Regions from separate parts of the Homo sapiens genome. Here region 2 is linked to region 1. The links come from fine-mapping of genetic effects on gene expression. Tissue or cell type: whole blood. Region 1 holds a variant in brackets; the other region holds the start of a gene. All regions are shown on one strand. Distances are between the middles of the regions.

Region 1 (5,000 bases):
TTGACTTAAATTATTTGTATTAAAATACTACTTAAATGTGGACAAATGTAAAATTTAGTATAAAATTAGGTATCTTTAGTATCTAACACACTATAATTTATAGGTATTTGGATATACATGTGCATTGTGAGTCATACAGTGCTTCCTCTCTTATCAAGTAAATTTAAATCTGATCCTGGGTTTCTCATGAGTCCTTTCTTTTGAAAGATGCATAGGTTCTGAGTAAGAACCTCACTGGGGATGGCAGTGGAGCTGAATAAGAGAGTGACTACTGCAGCCTGTTTTAAGATAGGCCAAGAATCCTAGCAATCTTCTCAACTGTACTAAGTTCACTGATTATTTTTCCCAACTTTTATGATTATTTTTCCCAATTTTTATTACGAAAAATGTCAAACATACACAAAAGTTAAAAGAAAATACATTGAACAATCATATATCTACCACGAAGTTTCAATAAGACAGACTCTTTAAATCAAAAATCAAATTACTACAGTGAAAACAGCCATCCACAGAGCTTTACACTATTGACGATATATAATACAAAATGGATATACAATATCTCCACTTGACAAATGGACTCTTAAGCCATGTAAAGAGGACTACTGTTCCCTAATGGATGCAGAGAGAAAAGTGTCTGGTAAAGTGGCTGAGGCTCCTGGGCTAAGTCTTTGATTTTAGAGACTGTTTCTGTCTTCCTAATTCATTTGCTAATTCTATAGCAAACAGACACTGAAAATCCTTTAAGTGCCATACCCAGGAGCTTTGCTCAAGAGTTTGTAGGGTGCTAGTAGAAAGAGCCTAACAAAGCTTAGAGAAACTCTCTAGACTTAATAAGAGTTTCCATACATGTAGATCTTTCTGGATATGGGACTCAATCAATGTCTTTAAAGGATGGAAATTCTTACCGGAAAGCAGTTGCCCTGATAGACACCCAAAACCTTTAAGCTCCTTATGTCCTCTTCATTGTGGAACTAGAGGTCTGGAAAGAGTGGCTGCTATAAAAGGAAACACTATATTGTATTGTCAGATTGAAATTAAATAGAAGAATTTTATCTATGCATAATAGATCATTTTAAGAGCTACTGTGTTGTTCTCCAAATAGTAATCAGAAATCTGTATTCCACTCTTGAAAAAATGAGCTTTGCTGATACTGTTATAGGTTCTTCGAAGTTCAGATTACTATGAGCTCTGGATTTATAGCAAGTCCTCTGGTGTGAAATGAACTGGTTACAATCCCTGCCATACAAAGCTTCTGTCTTCACATGGCCTCATTCTCTATGTATATCTGTGTGTCTGCTCCTTTTTATAAGGATACTAGTCATTGGATTTAGGGCTCACCCTACTCCAGTATGGCCTCATTTTAACTAATTGCATCTGCAAAGCCTCCCCCTCCCCTTTTTTTTTTTTGAGACGGGGTCTCACTCTATTGTCTAGGTTGGAGTGCAGTGGCGCAATCTTGGCTCACTGCAACCTCCGCCTCCCGCATTCAAGTGATCTGCTACCTCAGCCTCCCAAGTAGCTGGGACTGCAGGTACGTGCCACCATGCCCGGCTAAAAAATAGAGACAGGGTTTTGCCATGTTGGCCAGGCTGGTCTTGAACTCCTGGCCTCAAGTAATCCGCCCGCCTCGGCCTCCCAAAGTGCTGGGATTACAGGTGTGAGCCACTGCCCAGCCCACAGACCCCATTTCTGAATAAGGTCATATTCTGAGGTTTCAAGTGGACATGAATTTTGGGGGACATTATTCAACTCACTGTAAGTATGAAACCCCTATACAAACAGGTGAGTGACGGCAGCTTGGAGTTTTTAATTGGGTTATAAAAGATCATATAAAGGATGAAAGTTGGTAGTAAAGAGAGAAGGTAGCTGTTAAGTTTGATCCTCTAAAGAAGACACTGAGATGATGTTAGGAGTGCAGACGGTTTATTGGGGAGCAAGATCTGTGCAAGGAAAAAGGAAGTAGTTATGCCAGGGAGACCATCAGACCATGATGAAAACCTAACAAGGTCTCTGTCACCCCATGGGGGGCTCCAGAGCAGAGAGTGCTGAAAAGCAGAGTCCTCGTTGGGCAGCAATAGTTAGGCACTTGTTCAGTTGTTGGCTGGGGCCAATCCAGCTCAGCTCAAAAGCTGACAGGGACTTGAAGGAATTAACAGATGGAGGCTGTCAGCTAATCAGCTAATCACTCACCATGCAGCTGGGCAGAGATCCTCTTTTTTTTGTTTGTTTTTTTGAGAGACGCAGTTTCACTGGAGTTTCCAGGCTGGAGTGCAGGGGCATGATCTCAGCTCACTGCCACCTCCACCTCCCGGGTTCAAGTGATTCTCCTGCCTCAGCCTCCTGAGTAGTTAGGATTACAGGCACGCGCCACCATGCCTGGCTAATTTTTGTATTTTTATTAGAGACAGGGTTTCACCATGTTGGCCAGGCTGGTCTTGAACTCCTGACCTCAGGTGATCCACCACCCTCGGCCTCTCAAAGTGCTGGGATTACAGGCGAGAGCCACCGCACCCAGCCAGCTGGGCAGGGCTCTTGAAGGGGGATTCTGAGCAGTTCATCTCCATGTCTGTCATAAAA[C/G]GTGTTTTAGTTTACAGAGAATGACATATACGCACACACAAAGCAAGTTGTGTACTGAAAAAAGCAAACAAATGAACTTAATCCCACATAAACTACGATGGTGTCATGTTGTTATGTATTCTGAAGGCATGTAACATAGAATGGTTGCCCAGAATTAGTCTATGAGCCATAGAGTTTTTGTTGGAAAAGACTACATCACTTGGACTCTCTTGCCCATTTTAAGATTTTGTTTTTTTATTTTACTGTTGATTTTCTTTCATCTTCCCATTAAGGCTCTGGAGAAAAATCAGCAGTGGCTCGTGTATGATCAGCAGCGGGAAGTCTATGTAAAAGGACTTTTAGCAAAGATCTTTGAGTTGGAAAAGAAAACGGAAACAGCTGCTCATTCACTCCCACAGCAGACAAAAAAGCCTGAATCAGAAGGTACTGACTGGTATAAAAATGTTCTCTAGGGATAGGCCTGACATTTTCCAAAAGGAATGATTCATCAAATTTAGATTTTTATAGATATGTGTTAGAAAGTAAAATAAGAGCAAGTCTTATAGCCCTGAAGTAAGAAATACCATTTTTGCAAGTTTTATTTCCTAACGTTTTCAGATCAAAAGAAAGTACCAACACAGGCTAATGGGTGATCTTTGGCAGTTCTGAAATCACATTCAGTTCTCTCTACCCATGAATGTCCTTCCCCTTTTTCAAAGTCCTTCTCCAGCTTTTACTTCCCCCAGAGTTGGCCTTGTCACAATTCTCTTTTCACTTTGCTTCCCTTCAGCACTTATTCATATCAACCCCAGGAGAAAGAATGCCTTTTTTAGATGATCCTTAAATCATTTGAACTTCAGGTATAGAATTGAGATGAAATTTCTCATTCACGATGCTGTCTTTTTGCCAAGCACTTTGCAGTTTCCCTTACATAGATCTTAGTGGAGTTTTAGAGCAACCCTAAGAGGCGGGGCAGGAAAGGTCAGTATTCTCATTTTACAGATGAAGAAATAGGTTTAGCAATTCTAGATGACAAGCTAAGAAAAGAAAAATGAGAAACTCCATGCAATGCTCTCCTTAAAAGACTGACAGTTTGGAGGGGACCAAAGCCTTGAATTTTATAGAGAAGTCTAAAGAAAGGGGAACAAGACTCATAAGATTGGAGAATCATATTTGAATACTTAAAACAAAGCTAATGCTAAAAAGAAACTATAAATGTCTCTGGAGGCACTTCAAAGCTGTCAGCCCTAATGGCACTAAGTTGCTTCTATAAAATATGTGCTTATGTAAAAGCAGGATTTTAGTTATGGGCTAAGTCTAATTTCTTTTCTTTGGTAATACAGTTCTCTCTCTCTCTCTCTCTCTTTCTCTGTGTGTCTGTTTTATCAAAGCAATATAAGCACTTGTTAGAATAATGTAATAGTTAAGAAGGACCTTGCCCTGTCTTTCCCATCCCAATCCCCGTTTCTTCCTCCCATCAGGCAACTGCTCTTAATATTTCTATTTTTAATTTTGATAGTTATCTCCACATATAAATAATGAGCTTGTGTTCCTATTTGTTGATTGAACTTCTTGAGACTTTCCCTCCCAACAGAATAGATGTTACTGTTTTTAGTTCTTCTATTTGTGAGTTTTATAACTTCAAATAGTATACCTGAACTTGTTTTTTATTTCATCAAATATCAACCATAGTCCCTATCTCTTGACTTTTCATGTTGTAAACTAAGGAAATAGTGTGATTCATTTAGATGTTTGATGTTTCTCTTTTCAGGAATATTATTTATTTTATAAAGTGAGTTGTGCCGTAATGTTGTTTGTCATAGGTTATCTTCAAGAAGAGAAGCAGAAATGTTACAACGATCTCTTGGCAAGTGCAAAAAAAGATCTTGAGGTTGAACGACAAACCATAACTCAGCTGAGTTTTGAACTGAGTGAATTTCGAAGAAAATATGAAGAAACCCAAAAAGAAGTTCACAATTTAAATCAGCTGTTGTATTCACAAAGAAGGGCAGATGTGCAACATCTGGAAGATGATAGGCATAAAACAGAGAAGATACAAAAACTCAGGGAAGAGAATGATATTGCTAGGGGAAAACTTGAAGAAGAGAAGAAGAGATCCGAAGAGCTCTTATCTCAGGTAAACTTAACCAGATCCATAATTCAGAGTGTTCACCGAACACTTTCTAAGTGTCAGGGACTATTTGACCACTAGAGAACTGGCTAGGGACAAAACAAATTCCTGCCCCTCATGGGAGTTATATTCCAGAACAGAAACAGACCATAAACAATAAATAAGGAAACTAAAGAAAATGCAACAGGGTGACATGACAAAGGGAAATTGGGGACCAGTGGAGGCCTCTCTGAGGAGATGGCATTTGGACAAAGACCTGATGATGAGGAGGACCCAGTGAGGTGGGTGACTTTTCCTCTCAATGGAGGAAATT
Region 2 (7,688 bases), 33 kb before region 1:
TAGTCTAATCTCAGCTAGATTCAGCTTCACAGCCTGGCTGTCCGCATGGAACTTAGGGCAGAATGGCCACCCCTGGCTCACAGGCACTCACTCCAGCCTCAATTCGGATCTGGCTCATGGAACCTGGTGTACCCGAAGGATATGAAAAATTACATAAGCGTTGTGGCTTTCATAATCTACACCTGCGCTGCTGAACATCACCAACAACCATGCACCAGGACTACAGCAACCCCCAGATCCTCCTAGTTCCTACCAGGCCCTGAGTAATTTGACAGCCTCAGAAGGGTCACTCACGGTTGAACACAACTGGGCGCTCATACCTGTAATCCCAATACTTTGGGAGGCCAAGCCAGGAGGATTGCTTGAGCCCAAGAGTTCAAGGCCAGCTTGAGAAACAGAGTGAGGCCCTGTCTCTACAAAAAAAATTAAAAATTAGCTGGGCATGGTGGTGTGTGCCTATAGTTCAGCTACTCAGGAGGCTGAGGTGGGAGGATCGCTTGAGCCCAGGAGTTCGAGACCATGATCACACCACTGACTGCACTCTTCCCTCCTGGATGGCAGGGTGAAACAGTCTCAAAAAAAAAAAAAAAAAAGAAAGAAAGAAAGAAAGGGTTTGAACACGAAAAACTGAGGTCAACTGTAAACCAGTTGGTTGTCAGTACAGCACAATCCCAAGTACAGTGTAGCTATAGCCTAATAGGGCCTCACAGTGTCTATGCGAGCTTCACCATTAACAATCACTTCCCCTGGCCATTCTTCACCGTCTTATAGTTTGAGAAGAGCTGCTTACTGCCCTGACTTTGTTTATTTACCCAAGAGGCAAAATGTTTACATATTTCTGTTAACACAGGGACTTTCTTTGATGCCGCCTTGATCTTCTGGTATGGCTTTTTCCTTTTTTTTTTTTTGAGATGGAGTCTCGTTCTATCTCCCAGGCTGGAGTGCAGTGGTGCGATCTCTGCTCACTGGAACCTCCGCCTCCCAGGCTCAAGTGATTCTCCTGCCTCAGCCTCCTGAGTAGCTGGGACTACAGGCATGGTAGGGCTTTTTCCAGTTTACCATACCCTGCCCCACTCCACACTATGAAGTGTGTCTGCCTTTGTTCCATGTTCCCTCTGATGGACAGTATTTTGCTATAAGTATCCTCAGTTCAGTCAGAACTTAATGTTACTTAATTTTACGCAGTGCTCAAAATTGGGAACACACCTGTAAAGGGTTTGCCATCACCAGGATTTTAAACCACCGACATAGACTGAAAGCAAGAAGAGTGCTGTGTTTGTTGCTATATCCCCTCCAGCACCTAAGGCAATGCATTTCACATCTTGCTGAGAGCAGCTAACTCAATACCTGGAACTAGAAAATTAGAATCTAAAAGACGGAAGGCATCTAAAGACCAGTTCCCATCATGCCACAGCTGAGAAATTGGAGACCCAGGTGGTTAAATCAGATATTGAGTTAATGTCAGCTGGAATGCAGATGTTCCTACTCTGAGTTGAGTGCCCTTTCCTCTGTCAGGTTGCTTGTTAGCTAAATGAATGAATGACTTTACCACTCGATTTGTATGAAAAAAGGAGGCCAGAAAAGAGACTAAAGTTAAATGTGTAATTGTTTGTATAGACTATATTTGCCAACTTAACTGAAGTTTTCCACTTTCAATTGATTGTTTGCATTCATTGACTTAGATATATTTTTCATCATTTAAAATGTTTCATCAATGCATACAAACTCCAGACAAATAACAAGTCAGATTTCAATATAGTATTAACTCCAATTCCTCTATAATCTATAATACTTAAATAATTACATGATCGGACTGATCCAAATATATTTTAATGTCTTTATATGTCAATGATGAAGGATGTAAAATCTTCATATTATGTCTCTATTATGTAACTGCTTCAAGAAAACAAAAAATTAATAAAACCTAACACATGTAAATAAACTCTGACATAACGTGAGTCCATGATATTCACTAGCCAGATTTTCAAACCTCATTGTCCTTTAAGAGCCCAATTTTAAGCTGGGCGTGGTAGTTTACGCCTGTAATCCCAACACTTTGGGAAGCTGAGATGGGAAGAAAGTTTGAGCAAGGGAATTATAACCAGCCTGGGCAACATAGCAAGACCCAGTCTTATTCAAAAAAATTTTTTTAAATTTTTTTTAAATCCAATTTTTGCCCTTTAGATTTTTTTTTTAACCAACCAACAATTTGCCAGCTTTTTTTTTTTTTTTTTTTTTTTTTTGAGACGGAGTCTCACTCTGTTGCCCAGGTTGGAGTGCAGTAGCATGATCTCGGCTCACTGCAACCTCCTCCTCCTGGGTTGAAGCAATCCTCCTGCCTCAGCCTCCCGAGTAGCTGGGATTATAGGCATGTGCCACCATGCCCGGCTAATTTTTGTATTTTTAGTAGAGATGGGGTTTTGCCATGTTGGCCTGGCTGGTCTCGAACTCCTGCCCTCATGTGATCCACCCACCTCAGCCTCCCAAAGTTCTGGGATTACAGGCAGAAGTCACCACACCCAGCCAGCCAGCTTTGAGTTTCATTTCTTTCATTTTCTTGCTCATCCTCAGAGAGAGAGGTTTAAGAAGAGAAATAAAGGGGAAAAACGGGAAACAGAAAGGCGAAAGGTATAGATGCCTCAGGAACTGACAGGGAGTAGCAGTCAGGCTCCTGGAAGAAACGAGAAATGTAGCAAGGCATGGTCAGGAAACACATGTCTATCCATGCTCCCACTCTCTCTGCCTTTCCCTCTCTTTCCCATCCCTCTTGCCAAGAAGTGAGTTGGCAGTCTTACCAATGACAAACAAAATAGATAAAGCCTCCACACTGAGATTTAGAAACCCCACTTTAGCCAAAACTAAGTCACTTACATCAAATTGTACCATGACACCAAGCATTCCTGTCCCCTCCCCTGCAATGGCAATCAAGTGTCATAGAAAAATAGCCTTTTAAAATTACCATGAGCCTTTTATTTTTATTTATTTTTACACCCAGGCTGGAGTGCAGTGGCGTGATCACGGCTCACTGTAGCCTCAAACTCCTGGGCTCAAGCAATCCTCCTGCCTTGGCCTCCCAAAGTTGGCTCAGGGTTGAGGAGCCACTGTGCTCAGCCAACCATGAGGTTTTTAGAGATGATCTTGTCTAAACCCTTCTCGCCTGTTTTGCAGAAAAGAAAATTGAGATCCCAGAGAAATGAAGTAACTTGCCCAAGGTCATTCAGCAGGCAAGATAGAACTAGATCCCCAAATTGCAAACTAGCTGTCCAGAGTTCTTTCCTCAATGAGCAATTTAAAAGCTACAGAATGTACAAAAAAAGCTCCCCAACAGTTTAGATATAAAAACAATTACAAAGGCACAAAAGGGCAGGAAAACTCAATAAAACTATGAACTTCACCCATCCCACCTCCCAGAAACCCAGTGACAATCAAAGCAGCGTCAGGCTGGTTCAAGGAGTAATGGTGTCTCCAACAATTTAATTGCTCTTCTTCCTCCTTTACCCATTTCTCACAGGCAGAGAAAAAATGCATCTAAGACTACTGAAACTTACTTTGAACCAATACAGATGTTTGTTGATACCTGAAATTTAGTGATTCGCAAATACGTTTTCTGCCAAGAGCTTACAGAAATCACACTCTTAGAGCTAAAACATCAGGTCATTCCATGAGTCTCAAGCCCTGGAGAAAATTAAATGCCTTCCCCAGAAACGGGTCCTCTCCCCTGTCCTGCGCAGGTAACAAACGCTGCTGGAGAGACTTGGCTTCATCAGCTGTCTAAATGCAGACTTTTCAAGAAGGTGACTCAAGAAACTAACATTCCAAAACAGGACTTCAGAAAAAGAAGAAAACTTTTTCTTACCCTTAAAAATGACAGAAACAATAGGATCCGGCTTGCCAAATTTCGTTTTAGGGATATTGCTGGCAGATTCCACAATCACTCGCAGCATGGTTCTTAGCTGGTAGAAAGCAAGTTTCAGCAAACGAAGTGGAGACTAGGGCGCTGGAGCTCCGGGTCGCACCGCCCTGGGAGAGAAGTTCTCTCCCAGTGAAGGGAGGATTTCTCCCAGGGCAAGGAAGGGGAAAAGGCAAAATGGGTGGACCTCTGGCGGATTTTACTGAAGGCAACGTGTAAACTGATACCGAACTCCCCGCGTCTACGCAGTGCCGCAGGCACAGACTTATGAATTCGGGAAATGTGGAAGTGAAAAGGACAAACCCTAAACTAAAAATAATTCCGTGCGACAAATGAAACCAACATGAATTTGGAGCTAAGAAATACGGGTAGGTCAGGAAACCACTAAAATGTTGCTGCCTTTTAGCAATGGTTCGTGAAACTGAATTAATTGATTTTTCCGTCACTGCTTTCATTCTTTTCTGAGTTTCAAGGAGTTTTAAAACTTTAGTCATTATTTGCTTTTGACTTTTCGCTGTTACTTCTCACGCCATTGAACACACCCACTCAGTAACCCTATGTTCAGCTTTTTTAAAGCAGCTAAAGGGTGCCTCTTACTGGACGGCAAACGAATGACAGCGTTTATTTCAAGTAAACGCGATCCAGGCATGGGATATATAAATAATTACATATATGTATAAATAATTATATATATATATATATATATATATATATATATATATATATATATATATATATATATATAAAGGACTGAACATAGAATTTCTTCAAAACCCCTTCAGAGGTGAGAGCTGGGCGCCTAAGTTTTCCCGGCTCTTCAAATGCTGCCAATTGCCTTCAGTGAAAATGGAGAAGTGACTCCCCACTGTTTCTGGACCTACAGCTGCCCATGGTGTCTTTCTGTCCCAGAGGGTGCATGAAGACAGTGCAGCTTGGCTGAGATCACAAGAGGCGGCCTGGGGTTAGTCAGCCAGATCTGAGTGTGAGACTCTGCCTCACCACCCTGAGCTACGTCATCTTAGCAAGTTTCTTTTCTTTTCTTTTCTTTTCTTTTTTTTTTTTGACGGAGTCTCGCTCTGTCACCAGGCTGGAGTGCAGTGTAGCGATCTTGGCTCACTGCAACCTCTGCCTCCCGGGTTCAAGCGATTCTCCTGCCTCAGTCTCCCGAGTAGCTGGGACTACAGGCGTGCGCCACCACACGCAGCTAATTTTTTTTTTTTTTGTATTTTTAGTAGAGACGGGGTTTCACCATGCTGGCAAGGATGGTCTCGATCTCTTGACCTTGTGATCCGCCCGCCTCGGCCTCCGTGGCTTGAGCTTTACTGGCTTGAGCTTTACTGGCTTGAGCCACCGTGCTGGCGAGCAAGTTTCTTAACCCCTCTCTTCCTCAGTTTCCTCATCTATGAACTGGGGATAAAGGCTGTTATAAGATAAAGGTCATAGCATAGGAGCTGGCACAAAGCACACAGTAATTTGCACATGTAAGAAGTTCATGCTTATTTGTGGTCTCACAGCGTTTCTGTTAGTGCAGGCTGACTTTAAATCAGGATCTCGTTATATTTCAGAAGAAAAGGCTAAAACTTGGGATGAAGAAACATTGGGCTTCTTTTTGCTTTAGAACACACATCAAGCAGACCCACCTGTAAATAAACATTTCAAGTACATTGAATAAGCATGACTTAACCTACAAGAATTCTTCTGTCTCCACGAGTTTCTCCAAGGCTTAAAGCAAAGAACCAATTACCCAGTGCTGTGTTCATTATTGTATTTAGTGGACATGTTGGCAGTTTTAGTGGAATATAGAGATTATTACTTTTATTTTATCTGGCTGCTTTCTATTTGCCATTTTTACTGTGAAATATATTTACAGAAAAATGCATACTACATAAACGTGACAGTTTAACAAGCATCCAGGTCAAGACAGAACATTGCCAGTCCTCCAGAAGCCCCTGGAATACCCCATATATCATATCCACCTCCTTCTCCCAGAGGTAACCACTCTCCTGATTTTTTTTTCTTTTTTTAGATGGAGTTTCACTCTTGTTGCCCAGGCTGGATTGAAGTGGGGTGATCGGCTCACTGCCACCTCCACCTCCCGGGTTCAAGCAATTCTCCTGCCTCAGCCTCCCAGGTAGCTGGGATTACAGGCGTGCACTACCACACCCGGCTAATTTTGTATTTTTAGTAGAGACAGGGTTTCACCGTGTTGGCCAGGCTGGTCTCAAACTCCTGACCTCAGGTGATCCATCCACCTCGGCCTCCCAAAGTGCTGGGATTACAGGCATGAGCCACCATGCCTGGCCCACTCTCCTGATTTTTATGGTAATGATTTCCTTGCTTTTCTTTGTAGTTTTTACCGAAAACAACAACAACAAAACAGTTTAGGTTTGCTTGCTCATGACCTTTGTTTGGTGATATAAATTCTTTTGTATGTTATGAACTTTACATACAACACATATATTCATATATATAGGTACACACATACATGTGTTCATACTTTGTGAATTCTTTGCTGTATTATGACTTTATAGAAATGGACTCATACAGAATGGATTCTTTCGTGTTTGACTTCTTTTTTCTCAGTATTATATTGTGAAATTCATTCATGTAGCTCTACTTCCTTCACTCTTGTTGCTATATGGCATTTCATTGTATGAGTTTCTGACATTTTATTTATTTATTTATTTTGAGACAGAGTCTTGCTCTGTAGCCCAGGCTGGAGTGCAGTGGTGCGATCTCGTTTCACTGCAACCTCTGCCTCCCGGGTTCAAGCAATTCTCCTGCCTCAGCCTCCTGAGTAGCTGGGATTACAGGTGCACACCACCACGCCCGGCTAATTTTTGTATCTTTAGTAGAGATGGGGTGTCACCATGTTGGCCAGGATGTTCTCGAACTCTTTACCTCGTGATCCGCCTGCCTCAGCCTCCCAAAGTGCTGGGATTACAGGCATGAGCCACTGCGCCTGGCCTCCAGATTTGATTAATTCATTCTACTACTGCCAGACATTTGGACAGTTCAGGGAATGGGGCTATTACAAACAGTGCTGTTCTGAACAGTCCAAGACTGTTCTGGCACAAATGTGCATGAGTCTATTTAGAGTCTAATCTATGGGTGGAATTGCTTGCTGGGCCAGAGAATGTATGCATTTCTTCACCTTTACAAGGTAATTCCAAATTATATTCCACAATGGTACTCTTGCCAGCAGTGTATGAGACTTCCTGTTGTTCTAAATTTTTGTCATACTTAACCAATGTTAGATTTTTTACATTTGCCCTTCTGGTGAGCATATAATAGCATCTCACTGGAGTTTTAATTTGCCTTTTACCTATTCATGTGGGAGAAAAAGACAAATGACTTCCAACCTTACATAATACATAATCAATTACAGGTGGAGTATAAATCTAAATAAGCAAGATAAAACATGTTTCAGCCCAGACACAGTGGTTCATACCTGTAATCTCAACACTTTGGGGAGGCTGAGGTGAGTCTGAGACCAGCCTGGGCAACATAGTGAGACCCTGCCTCTAAAAAAAATTTTTTAAATTAATCGAGTGTGGTGGCATGCACCTGTGGTCCCAGCTACTTGAAAGGCTGAGGTGGGACAACCACTTGAGCCTGGGAAGTCCTGGTGGCAGTGAGCCATGATTGTGCCACTATACTCCAACCTGGGTAACAGAGTGAGACCCTGTCTCTAAAAAAAAAAAAAAAAAAATCTAACCAGGTGGTGGCAGCAGCTCACACCTGTAGTCCCAGCTACTTGGGAAGCTGAGGCAAGAGG

What was found. PIP is the estimated chance that this variant, and not a neighbour inherited with it, causes the effect.
Region 2: MYOF starts here. The variant in region 1 is fine-mapped to the expression of MYOF in whole blood (TOPMed, PIP above 0.99).

Annotation. Positions count from the first base shown.
Region 1 is chr10:93,512,556-93,517,555 of GRCh38, forward strand. It overlaps CEP55 (centrosomal protein 55), which reads left to right. Exons shown (of 9, transcript NM_018131.5): 5 at 2,850-3,000; 6 at 4,380-4,693. Among named protein-coding and RNA genes, the nearest start is that of CEP55, 18 kb to the left of the region's middle. The variant C/G (reference allele first, on the strand shown) is at 2,578.
Region 2 is chr10:93,478,251-93,485,938 of GRCh38, forward strand. It overlaps MYOF (myoferlin), which reads right to left and starts at 4,084. Exons shown (of 54, transcript NM_013451.4): 1 at 3,857-4,084. The coding sequence starts at 3,944.